Homo sapiens: one gene and its partners. The protein of the gene in region 1 purifies or fractionates together with the protein of each later gene. This does not show direct contact. Each region holds a gene or a part of one and is shown in the gene's direction. Other genes may lie near its edges.

What was found.
Region 2: the proteins of BMP7 (region 1) and UBE4A purify together in Homo sapiens (affinity purification with western blotting; one study listed by BioGRID). This does not show direct contact.
Region 3: the proteins of BMP7 (region 1) and GSTCD purify together in Homo sapiens (affinity purification with mass spectrometry; 2 studies listed by BioGRID and IntAct, with this or other methods). This does not show direct contact.
Region 4: the proteins of BMP7 (region 1) and UBE3C purify together in Homo sapiens (affinity purification with mass spectrometry, with the first as the bait; one large-scale study listed by BioGRID). This does not show direct contact.
Region 5: the proteins of BMP7 (region 1) and BTBD1 purify together in Homo sapiens (affinity purification with mass spectrometry; 2 studies listed by BioGRID and IntAct, with this or other methods). This does not show direct contact.
Region 6: the proteins of BMP7 (region 1) and AMD1 purify together in Homo sapiens (affinity purification with mass spectrometry; 2 studies listed by BioGRID and IntAct, with this or other methods). This does not show direct contact.
Region 7: the proteins of BMP7 (region 1) and TRIM56 purify together in Homo sapiens (affinity purification with mass spectrometry, with the first as the bait; one large-scale study listed by BioGRID). This does not show direct contact.

The regions. Positions count from the first base shown.
Region 1 is NC_000020.11:57,221,642-57,225,141, reverse strand, and holds part of BMP7 (bone morphogenetic protein 7 preproprotein), read left to right. Parts: intron 1-3,500. UniProt on the Homo sapiens protein: Growth factor of the TGF-beta superfamily that plays important role in various biological processes, including embryogenesis, hematopoiesis, neurogenesis and skeletal morphogenesis.
Region 2 is NC_000011.10:118,373,100-118,376,599, forward strand, and holds part of UBE4A (ubiquitin conjugation factor E4 A), read left to right. Parts: coding exon 1-189; intron 190-394; coding exon 395-586; intron 587-1,796; coding exon 1,797-2,130; intron 2,131-3,474; coding exon 3,475-3,500.
Region 3 is NC_000004.12:105,729,284-105,732,783, forward strand, and holds part of GSTCD (glutathione S-transferase C-terminal domain-containing protein), read left to right. Parts: intron 1-122; coding exon 123-216; intron 217-3,500.
Region 4 is NC_000007.14:157,141,926-157,145,425, forward strand, and holds part of UBE3C (ubiquitin-protein ligase E3C), read left to right. Parts: intron 1-3,500. UniProt on the Homo sapiens protein: E3 ubiquitin-protein ligase that specifically catalyzes 'Lys-29'- and 'Lys-48'-linked polyubiquitin chains.
Region 5 is NC_000015.10:83,057,253-83,060,752, reverse strand, and holds part of BTBD1 (BTB/POZ domain-containing protein 1), read left to right. Parts: intron 1-3,500.
Region 6 is NC_000006.12:110,881,285-110,884,784, forward strand, and holds part of AMD1 (S-adenosylmethionine decarboxylase proenzyme), read left to right. Parts: intron 1-3,500.
Region 7 is NC_000007.14:101,088,481-101,091,980, forward strand, and holds part of TRIM56 (E3 ubiquitin-protein ligase TRIM56), read left to right. Parts: coding exon 1-1,100; 3' UTR 1,101-3,500.

The DNA.
Region 1 (3,500 bases):
GAAGGCCTCCTGCAGACCTCAGCCCGGGGGAGCCCAGAGCCTGCCCTGCTGTCCCCGCCATGTGGCTGCCTCTGTCTCTGTGCCGCCAGCTGCCCAGCTGTGCAGGGCTGGGACATCTGACGAGCTGTGCCTGAGCTCCAGGAAAGCCCCGGGGGTGCCGAGGATTAGCCGGCTTTGGGTCAGCCTCAGCGTCTCTCCCCTTGTGGGAGTCACTTTCCACTGACTCCTCTTGATCTCTCGGAATCCAGATTAAATTCCGATAATGAGCCGAGCTGGAGGCCTTCCATAGCCCTGCGGCTCTGCTTAAAGCGCGGCCCCAGACAGCTGGAAAGACATGTTGGAGCCGCCCTTGGCGGGCTGTGGAGCGAGTGGGGGCTCAGAGGCAGGTCTGGGGACAGTGGCCTTGGCTCCAGAGGCCTTGCTGGGGTGAGAGGGGGCTGCGAAAGGATCGGAGTCTTATCCTCATTTTCTGAACCCCAGGCCTGAGGCCAGGCCAGCTGGGGCCTGGCTTCCAGGAGCTGGACTTGCTCCTGTCTCCATTGGTGCAGACTTTGGTTCCAGGTGAAGGTGAGGATATTTGGGGTAGGGGTTGTGCTGTTTGCCCTGTTTCTGCTGTGGAGCTGGGACCTGGCATCTTCCATCCCAGTCTTCCCCGTCTCTCCTTGAGCATGTGTCAGGCTTGCCCCACTCCACAGCGCTGCCCCACATGTAGGCGACACACTTCTGCTTTGGGAGCTGGCCTCTGAGAACCTCCCTGGGAGGCCAAGGCCAGCCAGGGCAGCAGAATCTGCTCCAAGGGAGTCGGCCGCCACCAAGGTCGAGATGATGTTGGCAGCTGGATGAAAATGTCCCTGGGTTCATCTCAGTGATTTTGGCTGCCAGGAGGGTGACCTCAGCGTGGTCTCGAGGGCCAAGATTTGGATCAGCTGCAGCCTGAGTCACTCTGAGGAAGAGGGAGCTGCCCCCTGCCTGTCCCCACCACACAGGATGGATTGGCAGAGGAGGCCTGGGCTCAGTTTCCTGGGTCCCTTCAGCCCAGGCAGAGGCTCTTGCCCTCGACTAGCCCTGGGATGGGGGCCCTGAGTTTCTGCCTTTCTGAGAAGCTCCCTGGGGACGCCGTGATGATTTTGGTCCATAAACCTGAGAAGGTAGGTGGGGCTGGATGTGGTAGGAGGAACGATGCAGCCCCCTCACAGGGCGGCCCTCGGGCAGTGGGCCAAGGGCTCCTTGCCCAGTCCTCTCCTGGGGATGCTGGGGTGGTGGCAACTTATGATGTGCGGATTCATGACTTGGTAGCAAGACTCTGGGCGGGTTTTGCCCTGCCGTTAGCCCCCATGAGCGTGTTTGGGCAGAGAGCCATGGTCACGTTCCAGAGCATGTCTCCACCCTGTGGTTGAGGCTTCTTGTTGCGTGGTGCTTACTGTTTATGACTGTGCTGGACACTTCAGCTTTGTTTCATGCCTTGGAAAGGTTCCTATGAAGATGTATCATCCCCATTTTACAGGTGCGGAGCCTGGCTCAGAGGTGGGAAGTAACTTGCCCAAAAGCACACAGCTACAAAGTGGCAGAGGTGGGGCTCAAACCCAGGCTCTTAGATTTCAGCAGTCACCATCTTAGCCATGGCCGTGCCTCAGTGATTCCCATAGTGCTGATTCCCTCACCTGGGGCTCAGATGGGTCCATTGATGAGTCCTGAGCTGGTTTTCAGCCTTGGCTGTGCAATAGAATCACAGAGGCTTTTAAAACTCCTGATCCGTAGGGGTTGAACTGTCATTGGTGTGCTTTAAAAGCTCCCAGGTGATTCCCTGTGTGCTGGGGTGTGAACAGGTGGCTAAGATCTCTCTAATTTCTCACCCATGAGCTGTCTTACATGCCCAAGAGGAAGGAAAGAGATTCCTTTTTTTTTTTTTTTTGAGATGGAGTCTCACTGTGTTGCCCAGGCTGGAGTGCAGTGGCACGATCCCAGCTCACTGCAACCTCCACCTCTCAAGTTCAAGTGATTCTCCTGCCTCAGCCTCCCAAGTAGCTGGGATTACAAGTATGTACCACCATGCCTGGCTGATTTTTTTATTTTTAGTAGAGATGGGGTTTCACCATGTATTGGCCTTCTGTGACACATTCCATGTTCCCTTCAGCTTGGTGTCTCAGAGAAGACTGTTCTTCTTCCCATGAGACTGAGCCCAAAGTGTAGTCCAGACCACAATTGTCAGTCTCAATGGCACAGGAAAGGGACTGGCTAAGGGTGAAGATCCCTTTGGACTCTGGCTCCAGAGGCTTCTGGAAGCTTCTGGAAGCTTCCAGAAGCCTCTGGAGTTTCTTGCTGCTCCTGAAGGCTACATGCCTGTTTCCTCGTCTCCTGGCTTCTACCCCTTGCCACTACACCTCAGCCCCAGGGCATGAGTTCTGGTTTTGAGCTGCCTTCTCAGGATGTGCCAGGTCAGCTTCCTGAGTAGCCTTTTCAGAGGGCAAGGAGGATTCCTTTTGGCTGCTGGGAACTTCCAGGATGTCCTGGAAGGTCAGAGGAGAGCAGCCCTCATCAAGGAGCCTTGGCATTTTTCCTCGCAGTCCCTTTCTCTGGGCCTCACTCCAGAACCGAGACTGAAGCTGCCTGAGAGGGAGTGGCAGGCCCTTAATGCCTTTGGTTCCGCTTGGGGTCCTCTCATGGATCTGCAAGGATCCCTCTGGAAAAAGCCACCCAGCTGGGCAGAGATGGCAAACCACTGTGTTCAATCCAGTTAATGCCAGAGACACAGCCAGTATCCCCTACTCAGCATCTGGGGGCCAAATGCCCGTTGGCTTCCTGTCCTGTGGCCTGAGGCCATCTGGTGGGCCTTGGTGGCTTTTTTTTATCTCTGTCCCTGTTATTTCTTCCCATAATTCATCCCGAGCCTGGCTTCACAGGGAGCATACGGGTGGTGGCTGGGAATCGATGGCAACAGATTCCGTTTGCTGAGTGTTTGCGGCGGGCGGGGGCTCAGCAGGTTGCCCACATTTTCCCTGATTCCCCGTAGGTGTTATATCACGTTCAGTGAAGCCGAGCGGGTGTCCCCACGAGGTGGTCAGTCCTGCCCCTCTTGTAGACCACCTGTGGGAAAGGTCTGCTCTCTTTACGTTTCCATCGATTTAGCTGGGTCCACAATGCGATCTTGGAGCCTCCTCTCTCCCATGACACTTGTCTATGCTGGGAGAAGGGATGGCTGCCTTTGGGAACAGTCATGATGACAAAAGCTAATTGCATGCAATGGGGGCTCTTTACTGCTTCCCACAACAACCCCCCATGGAGACACCCTTATCCCTGCCCACCCCTCTTTTTTTTTTTTTTTTTTTTTTTGAGAGATAGGGTCTTGCTCTGTTGCTCTGCTGGAGTGCAGTGGAGTGATCACAGCTCACTGCAGCCTCGACCTCCTGGGTTGGAGCAATCGTCCCACCTGAGCCTCTCAAGTAGCTAGGACCATAGGAACACACCACTATGTCTGGCTAGTTTTTTACTTTTGTAGAGAT
Region 2 (3,500 bases), on another chromosome or scaffold:
ACTGAGTTTCTGGAAGAGGTCATTGAAGCCTTGATATTGGATGAGGAAGTTAGAACATTTCCAGAAGTCATGATTCCAGTGTTTGATATTTTATTGGGCCGAATAAAAGATCTAGAGCTCTGTCAGATCCTTTTGTATGCATATCTGGATATTCTTCTCTATTTCACTAGGCAAAAAGATATGGCAAAGGTAGGTCTGAAAGATGATATGTATTCAGTTGAGCTAGATGTGTAATACATGATGCTTCCCTATCCTGAAGACACTATAATACTACCTATAAAATAAGAAAAAGATAGCTTGGTTGTTGTATCAACTTAACTGTTTTGAGGCCCTCCCACCCCATCACCTTATCTCACCATGAAGATGAATAAGCAGAACTTGTCTTCTCTTACAGGTTTTTGTAGAATACATTCAGCCCAAGGACCCTACCAATGGGCAAATGTACCAGAAGACCTTGCTGGGAGTAATTCTGAGTATCTCCTGCTTATTAAAGACTCCGGGTGTTGTAGAAAATCATGGCTACTTTTTGAATCCATCTCGTTCCAGCCCCCAGGAGATCAAAGTACAGGAGGCCAACATCCATCAGGTGGAACTGTTTACCAGGGTATCCCAGCCCCCTGATCTTAAAAGAGTTTTCTCAGAAAGCAGATACAGATAAGGCTGCTCAAGCCTCTCTGGGAAAGCAAATTGATCTAGTTGGCTTTTACATCACATAAATAAATTAAAACTGGGCATGGTAGCTCAAGCCTGTAATCCCGGCACTTTGGGAGGCCAAGGTGGGAGGATCGCTTGAGCCCAGGAGTTCAATTTGAAACCAGCCTAGGCAACACAGTGAGACCCCCATGTCTACAAAAAAATACAAAACTTAGGTGGGCATGGTGGCAAGCATCTGTAGTCCCACCTACTCGGGAGGCTGAGGTGGGAGGATCACTTGAGCCTGGGAGGTCAAGACTTCAGTAAGCCATGATTGCATCATCACGCTCCGGCCTGGATGACAGAAGAAGACTCTGTCTCAAAAAAAAAAAATCCCCTCTTTGTAGCATATGCTAAGAACAGCACGTGTGGGGTAAGAATGAGCTGCTGCTACTCATTACCCTTTGCTGTAGCACTGCTACAGCTACTTCTCCCCAACCCTCATTTTTCTCACTGAGCTATAACTTTAGCTCTGAAAATCTTTTGACTGAACTCTAGCTTATAAACCCAGTTTTTCTTCCTTTTCGTGTCTCCACCTATGCCCTCTCTTTGGGCTTCTTCACATAAATTATAGTAGAGGTCTGGCCAACATGAGGCATTGAATGATTGAATTGGGGATAGTTTAAGTCCCCTAATCATTAATCATTACAACTCTCTAAGGCAAGGCATGGCAAACTAGCAGTGGCCAAATCTGGCCTGCCACCTGTTTTTGTAAATAAAGGTTTATTGAACATAGCCATGCGCATTAGTATATGTATTGTTTCTGGTTTGAATTCATACTACAGTGATAGAGTTGAATAATTGCTACAGACACTGTATGGCAAGTAATGCCAGAAATCCTTATTGTCTAGCCCTTTGCAGAAAAAATTTACAGACCTGTGCTCTAATACCGTGTAATGCCATCTGCAGTTGGGCAGCTGATCAGAAAATCTCTTATAAGTGCCCAGAAATATATTTTAAAATCAAATTAGGGGATGAGGCACAGAGAGTGAGGGGAAAGATTAGGATTAGCATATTTTTGGAAACTGCCAGTTGCTAAGGTTTGGGAATAAAAACTATTAGGATTGTGAAACGTTCTGTGGTTGTGTTTTCTGGTTGAACAGTTCATGGCTCAGTTCCACGAAAAGATCTACCAGATGCTGAAGAACTTACTCCAGCTCTCTCCAGAAACCAAACACTGTATCTTGTCCTGGCTTGGAAACTGTTTGCATGCAAATGCAGGCCGCACCAAGATTTGGGCCAATCAGATGCCAGAAATCTTTTTCCAAATGTATGCCTCAGATGCTTTCTTTCTGAATCTGGGTGCTGCTCTCCTGAAGCTATGCCAGCCATTTTGCAAACCCAGATCCTCTCGGCTCCTCACCTTTAATCCCACATACTGTGCCCTCAAGGAGTTGAATGATGAAGAACGAAAAATTAAAAATGTACACATGAGAGGTAGGAGAGAACCAGGCTTCTCAAAACTGTGTGTGTGTGTGTGTGTAACGTGTAAAGCATTCACTCCCTTATCCTTTTTCACAGAGTTCCTTTCTCAAAAAAAGATGAGGCAGAAACGAGCTATTTCGATTTTTTTTTCTTTTTTTTTGAGATGGAGTCTTACTCTGTCACTCAGGCTGTAGTGCAGTGACGCTATCTTGGCTCACCGCAATCTCTGCCTCCCGTGTTCCAGCGATTCTCCTGCCTCAGCCTCCCGAGTAGCTGGGACTACAGGCACGCGCCACCACGCCCAGCTAATTTTGTGTATTTTTAATAGAGACGGAGTTTCACCATGTTGGCCAGGATAGTCTCGATCTCTTGACCTCATGATCCATCCGCCTCAGCCTCTCAAAGTGCTGGGATTACAGGCGTGAGCCACCACGCCCAGCCAGAATTTTTAAAAGACAGATGTTTGAGAGAAAAAAAAAAACACCTGGTAGCTTTTAAATGTTGTACTTTAGTGAGACCTTCTCTCTGGATTTGGCAGCCTTGCATATTCATTCATTCATAGTTTATAAAAATGAATAAAGCAGAGTCCTCATCCTTTTTGAACTCAGGCTCCAGAAGGCAGATATATTAACTGATAATTATAATATGGTATAGGGCTAAGCTATGGGAGCACAGAGGAGGGAGTAAATAATCAATTCTGCAGAAGTTGGAGGTCTTCATAGCTGAGTCTTGAGAGACAAGTTAGGTTTTACCAGGCAAAGAAGCAAGAGGGTCCCTTTATACAGAGAGAAAAGCAAGTGTAAAGGTACAAAGCTATGGAAAATCTTGACTAAGGAATGGTGAGAGGCTCAATGTGGCTAGGGCAAGGGGTAGATGGGGTTGAGTTGGGGAGGAAATGGATCAAGGGAGGAAGATAGGTGGGGCTGGATTGGAGAAAACAGTACAGAGAAATGAAGAGAAAATAAATGACTCACAGTCCTACCATTCAAAGTGAAATCACTCTTAATTTTGGTATATTTCATTCCAGTTTTATAATTCTAATTGTAAACATGATAACTGCTCAAAAGCAAATAATCAAATTCAGAAAAGCACAAAATAAATACAAATGATCTATTGCCTATCACTTGAAACAATCTATAGTAGTATTCCTTTTAATTTTTGGTGATTTCATGAAAAAGATTTAACTGTATTTCTGTAGACGGTGAGAAACCAAAAGATATATTCAGACAAAGAACTAATATGACAAGATATGTTTTTAAGAAGATATCACTGCTAACAGTATGGAAATTGAATGAGTGTAAGAGGAGACTGGAGACCAAGACATTTACCCTCTTTTTTTTTTTTAACTTCTTTGAGGTTTGGACAAAGAAACCTGTTTGATC
Region 3 (3,500 bases), on another chromosome or scaffold:
CTGATGATTATTACTATTTATCCTCCTCCTTACCAATATACAAATATAATTTTTTAGCCTTCAATAATATAATAAGACTATATTAATTCCTTAATTTAGAAAGAGGCTATTTCCTTTTCTAGGAAAAGGGCATTGAAGTGATGTTTTCTCCCCACCCTTGCCCTACTTGGACTCTTGATTGGAATGTTCTCCCTGCAGCAGTCAGCCCAAAGGAAGGTGAGTTTTCTTTTTTCTTTAAGTTTTATTCATACTTTGGATACTGTCTTCAGATATGTCTTCTAATTCTCTAAATCTCCCTTTGGCTTTATCTAATATTCTGATTATACTATCAGTTGAGTTTTCATTTTATTTTTCTTATGAAAATTATATATACACACACCACTTAGATTTAATATTTCTCACATTTTTCTACATTTGTTTTATTTGTTACTGTTTTTTCTTTGCTGACATATTTTGATTTTTGTTTTGTTTTAATTTTACTTTAAGTTCTAAGGTACATGAGCACAACGTGCAGGTTTGTTACATATGTATACATGTGCCATGTTGGTGTGCTGCACCCATTAACTCATCATTTACATTAGGTATATCTCCTAATGCTATCCCTCCCCACTCCCCCTACCCCACAACAGGCCCCGGTGTGTGATGTTCCCCTTCCTGTGTCCAAGTGTTCTCATTGTTCACTTCTCACCTATGAGTGAGAACATGCGGTGTTTGCTTTTTCTCCTTGCGATACTTTACTGAGGATGATGGTTTCCAGCTTCACCCATGTCCCTACAAAGGACATGAACTCATCCTTTTTTATGGCTGCATAGTATTCCATGGTGTATATGTGCCACATATTCTTAATCCAGTCTAACATTGATGGACATTTGGGTTGGTTCCAAGTCTTTGCTATTGTGAATAGTGCCGCAATGAACATACATGTGCTTGTGTCTTTATAGCAGCATGATTTATAATCCTTTGGGTATATACCCAGTAATGGGATGGCTGGGTCAAATGGTATTTCTAGTTCTAGCTCCTTGAGGAATCACCACACTGTCTTCCACAATGGTTAAACTAGTTTACAGTCCCACCAACAGTGTAAAAGTGTTCCTATTTCTCCACATTGTATCCAGCACCTGTTGTTTCTTGACTTTTTAATGATCACCATTCTAACTGGTGTGAGATGGTATCTCATTGTGGTTTTGATTTGCATTTCTCTGATGGCCAGTGATGATGAACATTTTTTCATGTGTCTTTGGCTGCATAAATGTCTTCTTTTGAGAAGTGTCTGTTCATATCCTTCGCCCACTTTTTGATGGGCTTGTTTGTTTTTTTCTTGTAAATTTGTTTGAGTTCATTGTAGATTCTGGATATTAGCCCTTTGTCAGATGAGTAGATGGCAAAAAATTTCTCCCATTCTGTAGGTTGCCTGTTCACTCTGATGGTAGTTTCTTTTGCTGTGCAGAAGATCTTTAGTTTAATTAGATCCCTTTTGTCAATTTTGGCTTTTGTTCCCATTGCTTTTGGTGTGTTAGACATGAAGTCCTTGCCCATGCCTATGTCCTGAATGGTATTGCCTAGGTTTTCTTCTAGGGTTTTTATGGTTTTAGGTCTAAGATTTAAGTCTTCAATCCATCTTGAATAATTTTTGTATGGGGTGTAAGGAAGGGATCGAGTTTCAGCTTTCTACATATGGCTTGCCAGTTTTCCCAGCATCATTTATTAAATGGGGAATTTCTTGTTTTTGTCAGGTTTGTCAAAGATCAGATGGTTGTAGATGTGTGGTATTATTTCTGAGGGCTCTGTTCTGTTCCATTGGTCTATATCTCTGTTTTGGTACCAGTACCATGCTGTTTTGGTTACTGTAGCCTTGTAGTATAGTTTGAAGTCAGGTAGTGTGATGTCTCCAGCTTTGTTCTTTTGGCTTAGGATTGTCTTGGCAATGCGGGCTCTTTTTTGGTTCCATATGAACTTTAAAGTAGTTTTTTCCAATTTTGTGAAGAAAGTCATTGGTAGCTTGATGAGGATGACATTGAATCTATAAATTACCTTGGGCAGTATGGCCATTTTCACAATATTGATTCTTCCTATCCATGAGCATGGAATGTTCTTCCATTTGTTTGTGTCCTCTTTTATTTCATTGAGCAGGAGTTTGTAGTTCTCCTTGAAGAGGTCCTTCACATCCCTTGTAAGTTGGATTCCTAGGTATTTTATTCTCTTTGAAACAATTGTGAATGGGAGTTCACTCATAATTTGGCTCTCTGTCTGTTATTGGTGTATAAGAATGCTTGTGATTTTTGCACATTGATTTTGTATCCTGTGACTTTGCTGAAGTTGCTTATCAGCTTAAAGAGATTTTGGCCAGAGACAATGGGGTTTTCTAAATACACAATCATGTCATCTGCAAACAGGGACAATTTCTTTCTCCTGCCTGATTGCCCTGGCCAGAACTTCCAACACTATGTTGAATAGGAGTGATGAGAGAGGGCATCCCTGTCTTGTGCCAGTTTTCAAAGGGAATGCTTCCAGTTTTTGCCCATTCAGTATGATATTGGCTGTGGGTTTGTCATAAATAGCTCTTATTATTTTGAGAAACATCCCATCAATACCTAATTTATTGAGAGTTTTTAGCATGAAGGGCTGTTGAATTTTGCCAAAGGCCTTTTCTGCATCTATTGAGATAATCATGTGGTTTTTGTCTTTGGTTCTGTTTATATGCTGGATTACGTTTATTGATTTGCATATGTTGAACCAGCCTTGCATCCCAGGGATTAAGCCTACTTGATCATGGTGGATAAGCTCTTTGATGTGCTGCTGGATTCGGGTTGCCAGTATTTTATTGAGGATTTTTGCATCAATGTTCATCAGGGATATTGGTCTAAAATTCTTTTTTTGTTGTGTTTCTGCCAGGCTTTGGTATCAGGATGATGCTGGCCTCATAAAATGAGTTAGGGAGGATTCCCTCTTTTGCTATTGATTGGAATAGTTTCAGAAGGAATGGTACCAGCTCCTCCTTGTACCTCTGGTAGAATTCGGCTGTGAATCCGTCTGGTCCTGGACTTTTTTTGGTTGGTAGGCTATTAATTATTGCCTCAATTTCAGAGCCTGTTATTGGTCTATTCAGGGATTCAACATCTTCCTGGTTTAATCTTTGGAGGGTGTATGTGTCCAGTAATTTGTCCATTTCTTCTAGATTTTCTAGTTTATTTGCATAGAGGTGTTTATAGTATTCTCTGATGGTAATTTGTATTTCTTGGGATCGGTGGTGATATCACCTTTATCATTTTTTATTGCATCTAGTTGATTCTTCTCTCTTGTCTTCTTTATTAGTCTTGCCAGCAGTCTATCAATTTTGTTGATCTTTTCAAAAAACCAGCTCCTGGATTCATTGATTTTTTGAAGGGTTTTTTGTGTCTCTATCTCCTTCAGTTCTGCTCTGATCTCAGTTATTTCTTGCCTTCTGCTAGCTTTTGAATGTGTTTGCTCTTGCTTCTCTAGTTCTTTTAATTGTGATGTTA
Region 4 (3,500 bases), on another chromosome or scaffold:
TAATACTCTTGTGCTGGGTCCTAGATGATACGCATGTTCAGCTGTTGTGCACACCGCTGCCACAGTTTCCCCGTGTCGCACGCCCACAGCATCTGAAGGTATCCAGGTTTCCACATCCTTGCCAACACTTGATATTGCAAGTCCTTTAATTTTAGTGAGGATGTAGTTTCTTTGTGGTTTTAATTTTGTTTCCTGACAACTAATTATGTTGAGCACCTACATATGCTTGTTTTCCTGAATTCTCTTTGACTGCCGCATAAGTCCCTTCCCTTGTTGGAAAAATGAAGTTATAGTGACCCTTTTCTCATGTCTTAAATTATTATTTGAAATCTTCCCTTTCTGGAGCTTAGTGGAAAATGGAGTGGTTACCACCTTTGAATAAGCTTTTTCTTTTTTCAAATTAAATACTTTTAGTATTTATTATTTGTATAGATCTGTGTACGACAAGTCTGACTTGAAGAAGTTGATAATCTTGTTGGGCAGATAAGACTTAAGCAATTAAAAATTAAATAACAATAGAGTAATTGCTACATTCTAAATTTCCCTTGGTCCTGATTCAGAAAAAGTAGAATTGTTTGGAGCTTAGTCCTGAAGGATGGGTGTAATTAGGATGGGTGGAAGACGAGAAGGCATTCCAGGTTCGTGGAGCGGGGTGTGTGGAGTACATGTAGATTGGATTACATTGATTCAAAGTCACTTTGGGGAGCTAAACATTGATTACACATGGACATAAAGATGGGATGATAGACACCAGGGACTACTAGAGGGGGAAAGAGAGGGACGGGGACAAGGGCTGGGAAGCTACCTGTTGGTAACTGTGCTCACTCCCCGGGTAATGGGATCATTCACACCCCAAACCTCCGCGTCCTGCAGTATATTCTTGTAACAAACGTGCATAGGTACCCCCTAACTCTAAAATAAAAGTTGAATTTTTTTTTTTTTTTTGAGATGGAGTTTCGCTCACGCTGGAGCGCAGTGTTGCCCAGGCTGGAGTGCAATGGTGCGATCTCAGCTCACCACAAACCTCCACCTCCCGGGTTCAAGCGATTCTCCTGCCTCAGCTTCCCGGGTAGCTGGGATTACAGGCCTGCACCACCACGTCTGGCTAATTTTGTATTTTTAGTAGAGATGGGGTTTCTCCATGTCGGTCGGGCGGGTCTCGAACTCCCGACCTCAGGTGATCCGCCTGCCTCAGCCTCCCAAAGTGCTGGGATTACAGGTATGAGCCACTGCGCTCAGCCTGAAATTTTTTTTTAAGTCACACTGATTTCTATCTTTAAATATTTCTGACATCGGGATACACACTGATAGCATGATGCAGTTTAATTGGGGGTATGTTTTTCTTGGTAGTGTATAGAAGAATATCACGGGGTCATCTGATTTCAAGTACAGAAATGGACTAAAACTAGCTTAGTAGGCAAAACAAAAAGAAACAAAAACAAGTTTATGAAAGGATAGGCGTGTCTGACAGAATAGAAAGGTCAGAAACACCCAGATAGCAGGTATCACCACCACAGGAGTTGCTTGTCTTTCTCCAGGAGCTGGGTGCACTCCCTTCTTCCTGTCTCCTTCATTCCTGGCTCTGCAGACTGGCTTTCTCCATTTCTCACACATGGTTTCCTAGCTTAAGCGTCAAGAAAGTTTGATCATAATTACCAGTTTTCAGGAGAGGAAAGTCTGATTGGCCTGGGTCATGTTTCCACCTGATAACCTCAGTCTGAGGAGGGCTTGGAGGCTTGGTTCAGATGGAACAGTCTAGGTGCACCTGAGGGCTGGGGTAGATTCTTCAAGAAGCGGGGAGTGGTCGTTGACTGAATGCCTGAGTTCCTGTGGGACAGGCACAGGAAGGAGTCTAGGCTAGAGATGCAGATTTGGGGGTTATCAACAGAATGGTGGCTTCGAACACAGGTCCTTAAGAGGACTTGGAGTTTGGGACAGGGTGGGACTCGTGAGGTACTGCAACATTTAATATGTGTGGGAGTTGGGGATACTTACAAAAGAGTCACACCTCCGGGAGTGGAGGAGAGTGGTGTCCAGGGAGTGAATCTCAGGGAGGGAGGAGTGACAGGCAATGCCAAGTGCTGCACAGACACAGTGAGTCCACTGACTGCGGAGCTGGGAAGAATTGGGTGATTTGAGCATATTCTGTAGGGTAGTCAGAGTTGGAAGTCAAGAGCATAGCACATTGGAGAGTGAATGGGAAGTCACAAACAGGGCCGAACACAGGCCGGATGCTGTGGCGCACGCCTACAATCTGCCACACCGAAGACTGAGGCGGGAGGATCGCTGGATCCCGGGAGTTCAAGGCTGCAGTGAGCTGTGATCATGCCATAGCACTCCAGCCTAGGCGACACAGCATGACCCCATCTCTTAAAAAATAAGGCAGGGGCAAGGCAACAGTGTAGACCTTTTTTGAAAAGCACCGGAAGATTGGATGATAGAGGGAAATTCGGTGTCTCGGAAATAGTTTTGTCTGTTTTGGGAGACGGGGGAAACTTAAGTTTATAGACTGGGAAGGACGGGGGTTAAAAATGTGGGGAAGACAGGAGTGGCATAACTTTCAGAGTCTTCGAGAATACCCGAGAGGGGAGAACTGAGTGGGAGCAGGCAATGGGAAATATTTTGAGACTTAAAGAAGCTAGGGATGAATATGGATATAGAAAAGTTTGTAGACCGGAGGAACTGAAATTTTTTAAGTTTTTGTAGATCTGACAATAGTGGGAGTAGAATTAAGATCACTTTAATGTTTGTCCAGTGCTTTTTTTAAAAAAAAATAGACTTTATTTTTTAGAGCAGTTTCAGGTTTACAATCAAGCAGAGGGTAGGGTTCCCATATGCCTAGTCTCCCTCACCTCACTTTTCTCTATTACTAGCATCTGGCATTAATGTGGATCATCAGTTACAATTGATAAACCAATGTCGATGTGTTATTATTAATTGAAGTCCATAGTGTACATTCAGGTTCACACTGTGTGTTGTGCATTGTGTAGGTTTTGACGAATATATGATGACATGTATCTACCCTTACAGCGTTATACAGAAGAGTGTCATTGCCCTAGAAATCCTCATTGCTGGCCAGGTGTGGTGGCTAATGCCTGTAATCCCAGCACTTTAGGAGGCCGAGGTAGGCAGTCAGGAGTTTGAGACCAGCCTGGCCAACGTGGTGAAACCCCGTCACTACTAAAAATACAAAAAATTAGCTGGGCGTGGGAGGCTGAGGCAGGAGAATTACTTGAGCCCTGGAGGTGGAGGTTGCAGTGAGCCTGGATTGTGCCAGCGCATTCCAGCCTGGGTGACAGAGCATGACTCTGTCTCCAAAAAAAAGAAAAAAGGAGGAGGCCCGGCACTTTGGAAGGCCAAGGAGGGTGTATCACCTGGAGTCAAGAGTTCGAGACCAGCCTGGTCAACATGGTGATACTCTATCTCTACTAAAAATACAAAAATTAGCCAGGCGTGGTGACAGGTGCCTGTAATTGCAGCTACTCAGGAGGCTGAGGCAG
Region 5 (3,500 bases), on another chromosome or scaffold:
GGCGCGATCTTGGCTTACCCAATCTCCGCTTGCTGGGTTCAAGCAATTCTCCTGGCTTAGCCTCCCGAATAGCTGGGATTACAGGTGTGTGCCACCACGCCTGGCTAATTTTTGTATTTTTAGTAGAGATGGGGTTTTACCATATTGGCCAGGCTGGTCTCAAACTCCTGACCCCAGGTGATCCGCCTGCCTCGGCCTCCCAAAGTGCTGGGATTACAGGTGTGAGCTACCGTGCCCGGCTTTAAATTTTTAGTTAGATTAAATATAACCTAAGTTGTTTTTTTTTTTTTTTGAAAATTATTAATTTGGGGGGAAAATAGGACTAATTTGAGGACATGTAATAATTTTTCTGTGCTCTCGTCCTTAGAGGTTGTATATGAGAGCTTAAATGATCACTTTAAAATACGAAGAATTGTGGTAATGTCATGTTTAATCTTTACATTTTAAAAACCTTGGCTTAGTTTTTTTTTAAATATTATAAAAACTCTAATAATTAAATAGAATGTAAAGGAAATGTATACATATGAATCAAGAGGATTCTTGGATTTTTAAGTAACTTTTTTTATTAGAAATGAAAATATTTTCCCTTTTGACGTTACATAGAAACCTGTGCTGAATTGTCTAGTCAATTAACGTGTATTTATTGAGACTTAAACACATGCCCATAATGTGCCTGGTACTGTTTAAGAAATAAATTAAAAATATAAGATACACAGAGATCCTTTTCTTACTGTTTATTGTCCAGTATTTATTTTTAATTTGCAGTGCACCCAAAAGAACTTAAAATGTCTTATAAGAAACACAAGGGTAAGAAATAAACTAGAGTCAAGGGTGAAGCTAATAGAAAAATGTATGCTGTCAAGCTGGGTACAGTGGCTCAGGCCTATAATCCCAGCACTTGGGGAGGCTGAGGCGGGAGGATTGCTTGAGGCCAGGAGTTTGAAACTAGCCTGGGAAATATAGCAAGACCTGTCTCTACAAAAACATAAAGCATAAAAAAAAATGAGCTGAGCCTAGTGGCATGTGCCTGTAGTGTTAGTTACTCTGGAGGCTGAAGCAGGAGATTCACCTGAGCCCAGGAATTTCAGGATACAGTGAGCTATGATCGTGCCACCACTCTCCACCCGGAGTGACAATGAGACCCTGTCTCAAAAACAAACAAAATGTATAAGCTATAAACTTTTGTTGTTGTTGTTGTTGTTGTTTTTGAGACGGAGTCTTGCTCTGTCGCCCAGGCTGGAGTACAATGGCGTGATCTCAGCTAACTGCAACCCCTGCTGCCCGGGTTCAAGTGATTCTCCTGCCTCAGCCTCCTGAGTAGCTGGGATTACAGGCGCCCGCCACCATGCCGGCTAATTTTTGTGTTTTTAGTAGAGTCGGGGTTTCACCAGGTTGGGCAGGCTGATCTTGAACTCCTGACCTCAGGTGATCCACCTGCCTTTGCCTCCCAAAGTGCTGGGATTACAGGCGTGAGCCACCATGCCCGGCCAACTTTGTTTTAATTATCTGAGCAGCTAGTGCAAAAAGAGAAACCTGGGTGGACGTAATTATTTATAGATTAAAAACAAGGCAACTGCTTAGGAGATGCACAAATCTGATAATTAGATGAGTTTTTAAAAAAATCCTGATGAGATCCCCTCATACAGAAGACATTGCTGTAATGAAGTGTCTTCAGTCTGTGTCTTCAGATACATACTTGTTTTAAAAAATGTTCCTTGATAGAAAGCAAAAGTATATTACTGAAGTATAATTTGATAAAAGCAATTTGAATGGGAGATCTCACACAAAATAATCTACAAACTTGATTCTCTCTTGTTCCTGGAGTGTACTTCCCACCGTCCTTTTAATCTTTAGATCTAATCTCAAGCAGAAATTTCTCTACAAACCTTTTCCACATCTTCCTAAGTCAAAGCCCGCATTTATAGATTCTCATAGAACCATGTATAGGTTTGCGGCACTTGTCCTGTTAAGTGTGAATCTAATCAAGGGCAAATGGTGATAAAGGCCTCACATTGCTGCTCTGTTTTACAACTCTAGTAATTTTTACCTGACAAAAATACATCAAGGCAGGCATGTAAAGACTTCTAGACTGCTACCTTGTCCTTCAAACAAAAATTTCTTTTTTTTTTTAATTAAAAAAAAATTTTTTTAAGTCTCACTTTGTTGGCCGGGCTAGAGTGCAGTGTTGCGATCTCCGCTCCCTGCAGCCTCCACCTCCCAGATTCAAGTGAGTCTCCTGCCTCAACCTCCCAGATAGCTGGGATGACAGGCATGAGCCACCGTGCCTGGCCTAAAACAAAAATTTCATAGTTTTCTAGTTTAAGAAGGGAATTGAGCATGCTGTTAGCATTCTCTCTCTCTCAATTAAAATGACTATTAAGAAATTTTTAAAAAATAGTAAGTCCATTACAATGAAGAGAAAAAGAGAGGTTGGAAGGGCCAACAGAGTAGAAAGGGACAGAGAAGTTGGAAGCTGATTGATGGATGAACTAGAGTAGATGAATCTGGAGCCCAGAATCCAGAGCTTTCAAAGCCGCAGCGGAGCTGGAGCGCCTTTCCTGGCAGAACCCCAACAAAGTTCTTGGCTAGCAGTTGGAAGTAAGGAGGGTGGAAATGAGAAGGTAGTGCTAAAACATGGAAATTAATTTAAAGCCTGTGTATAGACCATCCCCTTAGCCAGCTGTCCATGACAATGGACAGGCTTTTTGAGATAAATTGAACAAACTGCCTGAGAAGAACTGGGACTGCTGGGTATGGCTTTGGGACCCCAGGGTTAAGCTCTCTTCCAATGGCTTTGAGGGGTCCCTGCCCTAGGGCTGGCTTCCCACTCTAATGCCAGGTGCCAGTCAGCAAGCCTCCCACATACACAGAGCTCCCAGCCAACATTTCTGTTTTGGAGATAGTATTATCTTGAAAACAGACCAGCTGCTTAGAATAGTGAAGTTGGAGACGGAGTTTAATCATCTGACATATAAGGAAAAGCAGAACGTGAATGACAGAGACCAAGAGAAACACAACAGCGGATCCTCAAGGAAACAGACGAGAACTTTTAAAACTTTGGTTAATGTCATCTTGGAGACTTCAGAAAGTTTTTGCGTTCATAAAACCAGCACATGGTGCTGTGGAGAAAAAAGGAACGATCAAGAAAGAAGCAAGCATTCTTAGAAATTTAAATGTGATTGCTGTAGAGAAAAATAGGAAGGCACCAGAAGATAATGGCAAGGAAATCTTCCAAAATGCAGAGGGAAATAATGATAAAAAATATGAGACAACATACAGATAAATAGCTAATATTTACTGAGGCAATTTTTTTTGTCAGGCGTTATTCAAAATGCTTTGTGTTTTAATTTATGTTAATCCTCACAACCACATTATGAAGTAGGTGCTCTTATTCTCATCTTTTTAGAGAGGCAGGCATTGATAATAAGTCACATGGCTAGCAAGTGACAAAACAAGCTCAAACCCAAGCAGTCTATTTCCTCTTGGCCTTACTGTATGGC
Region 6 (3,500 bases), on another chromosome or scaffold:
TAGCAGTGTCCCTGGCCTCTATCCACTGCATGCTGGCAACACCACCACCACCCCAGTTGTGATAAAAAATGTCTCCAAATGTTGCCACATGTCTTCTGGGTGGCAAAATTACTACAAGTTGAGAACCACTGAGTTAGATCAGAGAGGTGGCATTTAAGATGAGAAAAAGGAATTCAAATCAGGAAATACTCAATCTACATATTTCTTTGTGTTTTATAACCACCTAAGAATTGTGTGCTTCGGGCCAGGCATGGTGGTGCATGCCTGTAATCCCAAATCCCAGCACTTTGGGAGGCCGAGGCGGGTGGATTGCTTGAGGTCAGGAGTTCGAGACCAGCCTGGCCAGCATGGTGAAACACCTTCTCTACTAAAAATACAAAAAAAAAATTAGCCTGACATGGTGGCAGATGCCTGTAATCAGTCCCAACTACTCGGGAGGCTGGGGCAGGAGACTTGCTTGAACCTGGGAGGCGGAGTTTGCAGTGAGCTGATAGCATACCACTGCACTCCAGCCTAGGTGACAGAACAAGACTGCATCTCAAAAAAAAAAAAAATTGTGTGCTTGAATAGCTTTATAATAATTTCTAATGACTAGATCAGTATTACGTGAGCTGTAATGTGAACAAATCCCAAAATCATCTTGCTATCTTGCTTCTCTTGATTCTGCTTTATATCCATCAATTTGATTTATTGACTCTTTAAATAGCAAGGATTGCCAAATAGATCAGTTTTATAAATAGTTTATAATAGACTAGTGCTTCAAAGTCTCAGTTTGTAGTGTACTTGGGAGTGAAGCAGAGACAAGACCACTATCACTACTGAGCCTGATAAAACATTCTAGCTTAATACTATCTTTTCTATTTTTGACACACAGTCTCACTCTGTCGCCCAGGCTGGTGTGCAGTGGCACGATCTTGGCTCACTGCAACCTAATTTTAAAAATGGCTCTGTCGACTGTATAAAGCACTTTGTCTTTTCCATCATTAATTTGATCAGAAAGCAGACCACTGAAAACCTTTCCTCCAAAACAAGAGTCAGCAAACTTTCTGTAAAGGACTAGGGAGTAAATTTTAAATTTTGCAAGGCAGACAGTCTGTTGCAATTACTCAGCTCTGCCCTTATAGGGAGAAAATAACCATAGTCAATGTATAAATGAATGGGTGTGGCTAGGTTCCAGTAGAGCTTTATTTACAAAAGCAGGCCATTTTTTCCCACAGAAATGTGATAGAAATAATTTGTGCTGAAATTTTCAGCTGTTGCAGAGTTTTTCACCTCTTTTATGTACATGTATAGCATTGTATTGACTACTTTTTTCTTTCGTCTATTTTGCCCTCTGATTTATTTTTCTTGAGCTTAGTAGCTCTGGTAAATGCCTTTATCATCACTAGGTTGATAGACAGTTTAACTGTTTGTCCTAGGTTGCTTAAAGTAATTGCTTTCTTTTGATACTATGATTGAAAAATTCTGATTACCGGAGCATTACTATTAGTTGAGGAAAGGTTTGAATGGAGAATTTTATTAACTGATGATGAGTGAGTATAAGAGCATTTTGAAGCCAATGGGTTGGCACGTGCCTATAATCCTAGCACTTTGGGAAGCTGAGATGGGAGGATCTCATTAGCCCAGGAGTTTGAGACCAACCTGGGCAACATAGGGAGACCTCATCTCTACAAAACAATTAAAAATATATTAGTAAGGTGTAGTGATACATGCCCTGTGGTCCCAGCTACTTGGGAGGCTGAGGTGGGAGGATCTCTTTGAGCATGGGAGGCCAAGGCTGCAGTGAGCTGTGATTGTGCCATTGTTCTCCAGCCTGGGTGACAGTGAGACTGGCTCAGAAAACAAAAGGTTATTTCTCTGCCATTACAGAAGAAGCATGCTACACTGTCTTCTCTTATTAAAATGCAATTAATAAACCCTGGACAGAATGCATTGTTGAGCAGCTATCCAAGGACTCTGAGAAGTAAATTTTAGCAGGTGAAATGGAGAAGAAAGCCAGAACTTTAAATTCCACTGAACCAGCAGTGAATTTCCTGTTTTTTTTCCCCTGTGGTATCTCCTCGCTGATTTCTCCTGGGCTTGCCAGAAACCCAGAACTGAAAAGTAGGGGCAGGCAAAAATAGTTCCAAGAAAGGCTCTCTAGTTCTCCTCTGCAAAGAAAGAATGAGAGGCCCCTTTGAATCAGAGTGGAAGAAATCTCTTTTTTGCTTTTGTTTTGTTCTATTCTGCCCCAATCCTCTTGTAGGCCTTTAGCAGCTGTGGCAGTTAGGCAGATGTCTAAAACAACGAGAGAAGGGAATCATTTTTTGTTTGTTGTTTGTTTTTGAGACAGAGTCTTGCTCTGTAGCCAGGGCTGGAGTGCAGTGACACGATCTCGGCTCACTGCAAGCTCCGCCTTCCGGGTTCATGCCATTCTCCCGCCGCAGCCACCCAAGTAGCTGGGACTACAGGTGCCCGCCACCATGCCCAGCTAATTTTTTTTTTTTTTATTTTTAGTAGAGACGGGGTTTCACCTTGTTAGCCAGGATGGTCTTGATCTCCTGACCTTGTGATCCTCCTGCCTCCCAGAGTGCTGGGATTACAGGCGTGAGCCACTGCGCCCGGCCAAAGCCCTATTTTTATAGGTAGTGGATGAAGAAGAGTCCTTCCCCTATCCCCTATGTGAGTCAGGCATTGTCAGAGAGATTATGGAAGGTTGAAGAAAGTAAACCTATAAAGTTTTATATGAACACTCCTTAGCCATTTTGCATGGATCTGACCCTAAACAGCACATCAGAGGCTTTGAAAACTAGAATACACAATAGACTGCCTCTCCAGGGCCAGCCTGGCCATTGGGTGGCAAATAAGTGGGGCAGATGCAAATAACATAGCAAAGGAGTTCATAACAAACCTGACACTGGAACCATAACACAACCTAGAAACATTGAGTAAAAACTTGAAGCCTAAACCAAACCAGATTGTCTGCTGAAAGTTTTTAAAAATCAAGACCTAGAATGATGTAACATGTCAAAATATCCAGGATGCCATCCTAAATTAGTCAACATACTCAAAACCAGGAAAATCTTAACATCTCAAAGGAAAAGACAGCAGACACCAACCTCAAGGTGACATGGACCAAGACTTTAAAGTATCTGTGCTACAAGTTGTAAGGGTGAATACTTTGTTTTAAGAGAGGGTCTTGCTCTGTTACCCTGGCTGGAGTGTAGCGGTGTGATCATGGTTCACTGCACCCTCCATCTCCTGGGCTCAAGCAAACTTCCCACATCAGCCTACCGAGTAGCTGGGACTACAGACCTGCACCACCACTCCCAGCTGCCTTTTTTCTTTTTAAGAGACTGGCTATTGCTATGTTGCCCAGGCTGGTCTTGAACTTCTGGTCTCGTGATCCTTCCTTCTTGGCCTCTGAACCACAGTGCCTGGCCACAACAGCCTTTAAAAAAAGAGAAAACAAAAATAAGAAAGGAAAAGACTGTTACACTGTTTAGTTCAGCCATGGAACG
Region 7 (3,500 bases), on another chromosome or scaffold:
AGGAGAGCCAGAGCCGGAGGGAGGATGAGCCGAAGACTGAGAGACAGGGTGGAGTCCAGCCCCAGGCTGGAGATGGAGCCCAGACCCCAAAAGAGGAAAAAGCCCAGACAACCCGAGAAGAGGGAGCCCAGACCTTGGAGGAGGACAGGGCCCAGACACCCCACGAGGATGGAGGACCCCAGCCCCACAGGGGTGGCAGACCCAACAAGAAGAAAAAGTTCAAAGGCAGGCTCAAGTCAATTTCCCGGGAGCCCAGCCCAGCCCTGGGGCCGAATCTGGACGGCTCTGGCCTCCTCCCCAGACCCATCTTTTACTGCAGTTTCCCCACGCGGATGCCTGGAGACAAGCGGTCCCCCCGGATCACCGGGCTCTGTCCCTTCGGTCCCCGGGAGATCCTGGTGGCGGATGAGCAGAACCGGGCACTGAAACGCTTCTCCCTCAACGGCGACTACAAGGGCACCGTGCCGGTCCCTGAGGGCTGCTCCCCTTGCAGCGTGGCCGCCCTGCAGAGCGCGGTGGCCTTCTCCGCTAGCGCACGGCTCTATCTCATCAACCCCAACGGCGAAGTGCAGTGGCGCAGGGCCCTGAGCCTCTCCCAGGCCAGCCACGCGGTGGCGGCACTGCCTAGCGGGGACCGCGTGGCTGTCAGCGTGGCGGGCCACGTGGAGGTGTACAATATGGAAGGCAGCCTGGCCACCCGGTTCATTCCTGGAGGCAAGGCCAGCCGGGGCCTGCGGGCGCTGGTGTTTCTGACCACCAGCCCCCAGGGGCATTTCGTGGGGTCGGACTGGCAGCAGAATAGTGTGGTAATCTGTGATGGGCTGGGCCAGGTGGTTGGGGAGTACAAGGGGCCAGGCCTGCATGGCTGCCAGCCGGGCTCCGTGTCTGTGGATAAGAAGGGCTACATCTTTCTGACCCTTCGAGAAGTCAACAAGGTGGTGATCCTGGACCCGAAGGGGTCCCTCCTTGGAGACTTCCTGACAGCCTACCACGGCCTGGAAAAGCCCCGGGTTACCACCATGGTGGATGGCAGGTACCTGGTCGTGTCCCTCAGTAACGGGACCATCCACATCTTTCGGGTCCGTTCTCCGGACAGTTAAAGGGGCTAGGACTAGGGTGAGAGGGAGTGGGGAGGGAGAGGGCAGGAAGGAGGCAGAGCTGTCCGTGGGAGGTGGAGGCCGAGGACATTTTCCTGAAGGGCAGGGGTTGGCAACTTTTCAACATGGAGTGCCAAACTGCTAACCCGTCTTCTAGTGTGTGAGAATAGGGACCAAGGTGGTGGCGTGACCTTAACTCTCAGAAGCAGAGGAGGCAGGTGGGTGGAGGGGGATGCTGGGAGTTCACCTGCCTCTTGCTTTTTGTGGGTGGCTGCTGCCACCACCGCCGCTGCTATATAGTTTAGGTTTCTGAGGTTTGTGAGCCTGTCCTGCTTTGCATTCTTCAAAACCATTCCTGATAGAGTAGCCGAGGGAGAGTCTTGGGGCCAAGAAGGGCCCAGGGTGGGTCAGGCGTGTGCACTGTGGAACAGAGCTGAGACCCCGGCCCCCCTTGGACTGGCACAGGGTCCTACAGAGTCAGAGGAGGCCTGAGATTTCGAATGGGCAGTGAATGGCCTCTTCTGCCAGCCACAGGCAGGATGCTCCTTGATCACGGCATCCCCCGGCGGTAGTACAGGGTGAGCTTGCAGGAGGGTCTGCAAGTGCAGACAGCAGCTGGGGCCAAAGAGGTGTTAGGTTCAAAGGCTGCGAAGAGAATAGGCTACTGGAAAACCAAACCCAACAGAATTCACGTCCAAAAATCCACATTCTCCATCGCTTCTCAGCCTTTTGGCTAAGATTAAGTATTAAAAAAAAACCAGGCTCTGCCAGGCGCAGTGGCTCATGCCTATAATCCCGGCACTTTGGGAGTCTGTGGCAGGAGGATTGCTTGAGGCCAGGAGTTTGAGACCAGCCTGGGCAACATAGCGAGACCCCATCTCTACAAAAGATTAAAAATTAGCTGCGTGTAGTAGCATATGCCTTTCAACGTAGCTACTCAGGAGGCTGAGGTGGGAGGATCCCTTGAGCCGAGGAGTTTGAGTCTGCAGTGAGCTATGATCGCACCACTGCATTCCAGACCCCATCTCGAAAAAAAAAAAAAAAAAAAAAAACAGAAACAACAGAAAAAGCAGGTTATCCATCACTTCTCAGCTAAGATCAAGTGTTAAAATAAATAAATAAATAAATAAATAAATAAATAAATAAATACCAAGTTATGAGTGTCAGAGCAGGGGAGCCCTCCACGCAGCCACGGAGCCAGTCTGAGGGAAGAGGTACATAGGATAGAAAAATCTCTAGGCTCCAACGCTTCTGCTTCGGTGTCTTTCCATTTCCCAGGGTCTATGTGTTGCCTTCTCTTCATTTTCCAGCAAAATTCCTTTTGAGATATGTTGGCCTTCACTCGGCTGAACTAGGGGGTGAAGGAAGGTTGTCCTCTGTGGGCCACTATTGCTGGGGAAACAGCTAAACCCTGCAGGCCAAGTGGAACTTGGAGGTGCCAAGAAAACCTAGAAGGTGCAATGGGGCTGCGACGGATAGAGGTGTCAAACCAGAAGGGAGGAACCCGTCGGAGGTGGGCTGTGACCACCGGACCTTTTCATAAGTGGTGGCAGTGGTAGAATTGAGGGGGCAAGTAGGCTTGGAGAATGTTTTTAGCCAGGGGCTGTTGAGAGATGGCAGAAGGGGGTCTTAATGTGGGGACTGTGGACAGTGGGGCATTCGTGGGAACCAGAGGGATTTTGGACAAGTCCAGATGGAATGTGCAGGGCATAGGTAGAGGGAAAAGAAAATCCCTTTCTGGGAAAACCATTTCTTGTTTATTGAAACAATGCAGGACATCATCAAAGTCCGGGTGGACACATTCCATTATCTACAAATTACAAAGGTAGGCACAGCAAAGAATAATGAAGATTATAAGAAAACCAAGCGCCAGGCACGGTGACTCAAGCCTGTAATCCCAGCACTCTGGGAGGCTGGGGTGGGTGGATCACTCAAGGTCAGGAGTTCGAGACCAGCCTGGCCAACATGGAGAAACCCCATCTCTACTAAAAATACAAAAATTAGCTAGGCGTGGGAGCGGGCGTCTGTAATCCCAGCTACTTGGGAGGCTGAGGCAGGAGAATCATTTGAACCCAGGAGGTGGAAGTTGCAGTGAGCTCAGATCGCACCATTGCACTCCAGCCTGGGTAACAAGAATGAAACTCCATCTCAAAAAAAAAGAAAAAGAAAAGAAAGAAAACCAAGGTCCCTCTCCCTCTCCCTCTCCCCACGGTCTCCCTCTGCCTCTCTTTCCATGGTCACGGTCTCCCTCTGATGCCGAGCCGAAGCTGGACTGTACTGCTGCCATCTCGGCTCACTGCAACCTCCCTGCCTGATTCTCCTGCCTCAGCCTGCCGAGTGCCTGCGATTGCAGGCGCGCGCCGCCACGCCTGACTGGTTTTCGTATTTTTTTGGTGGAGACGG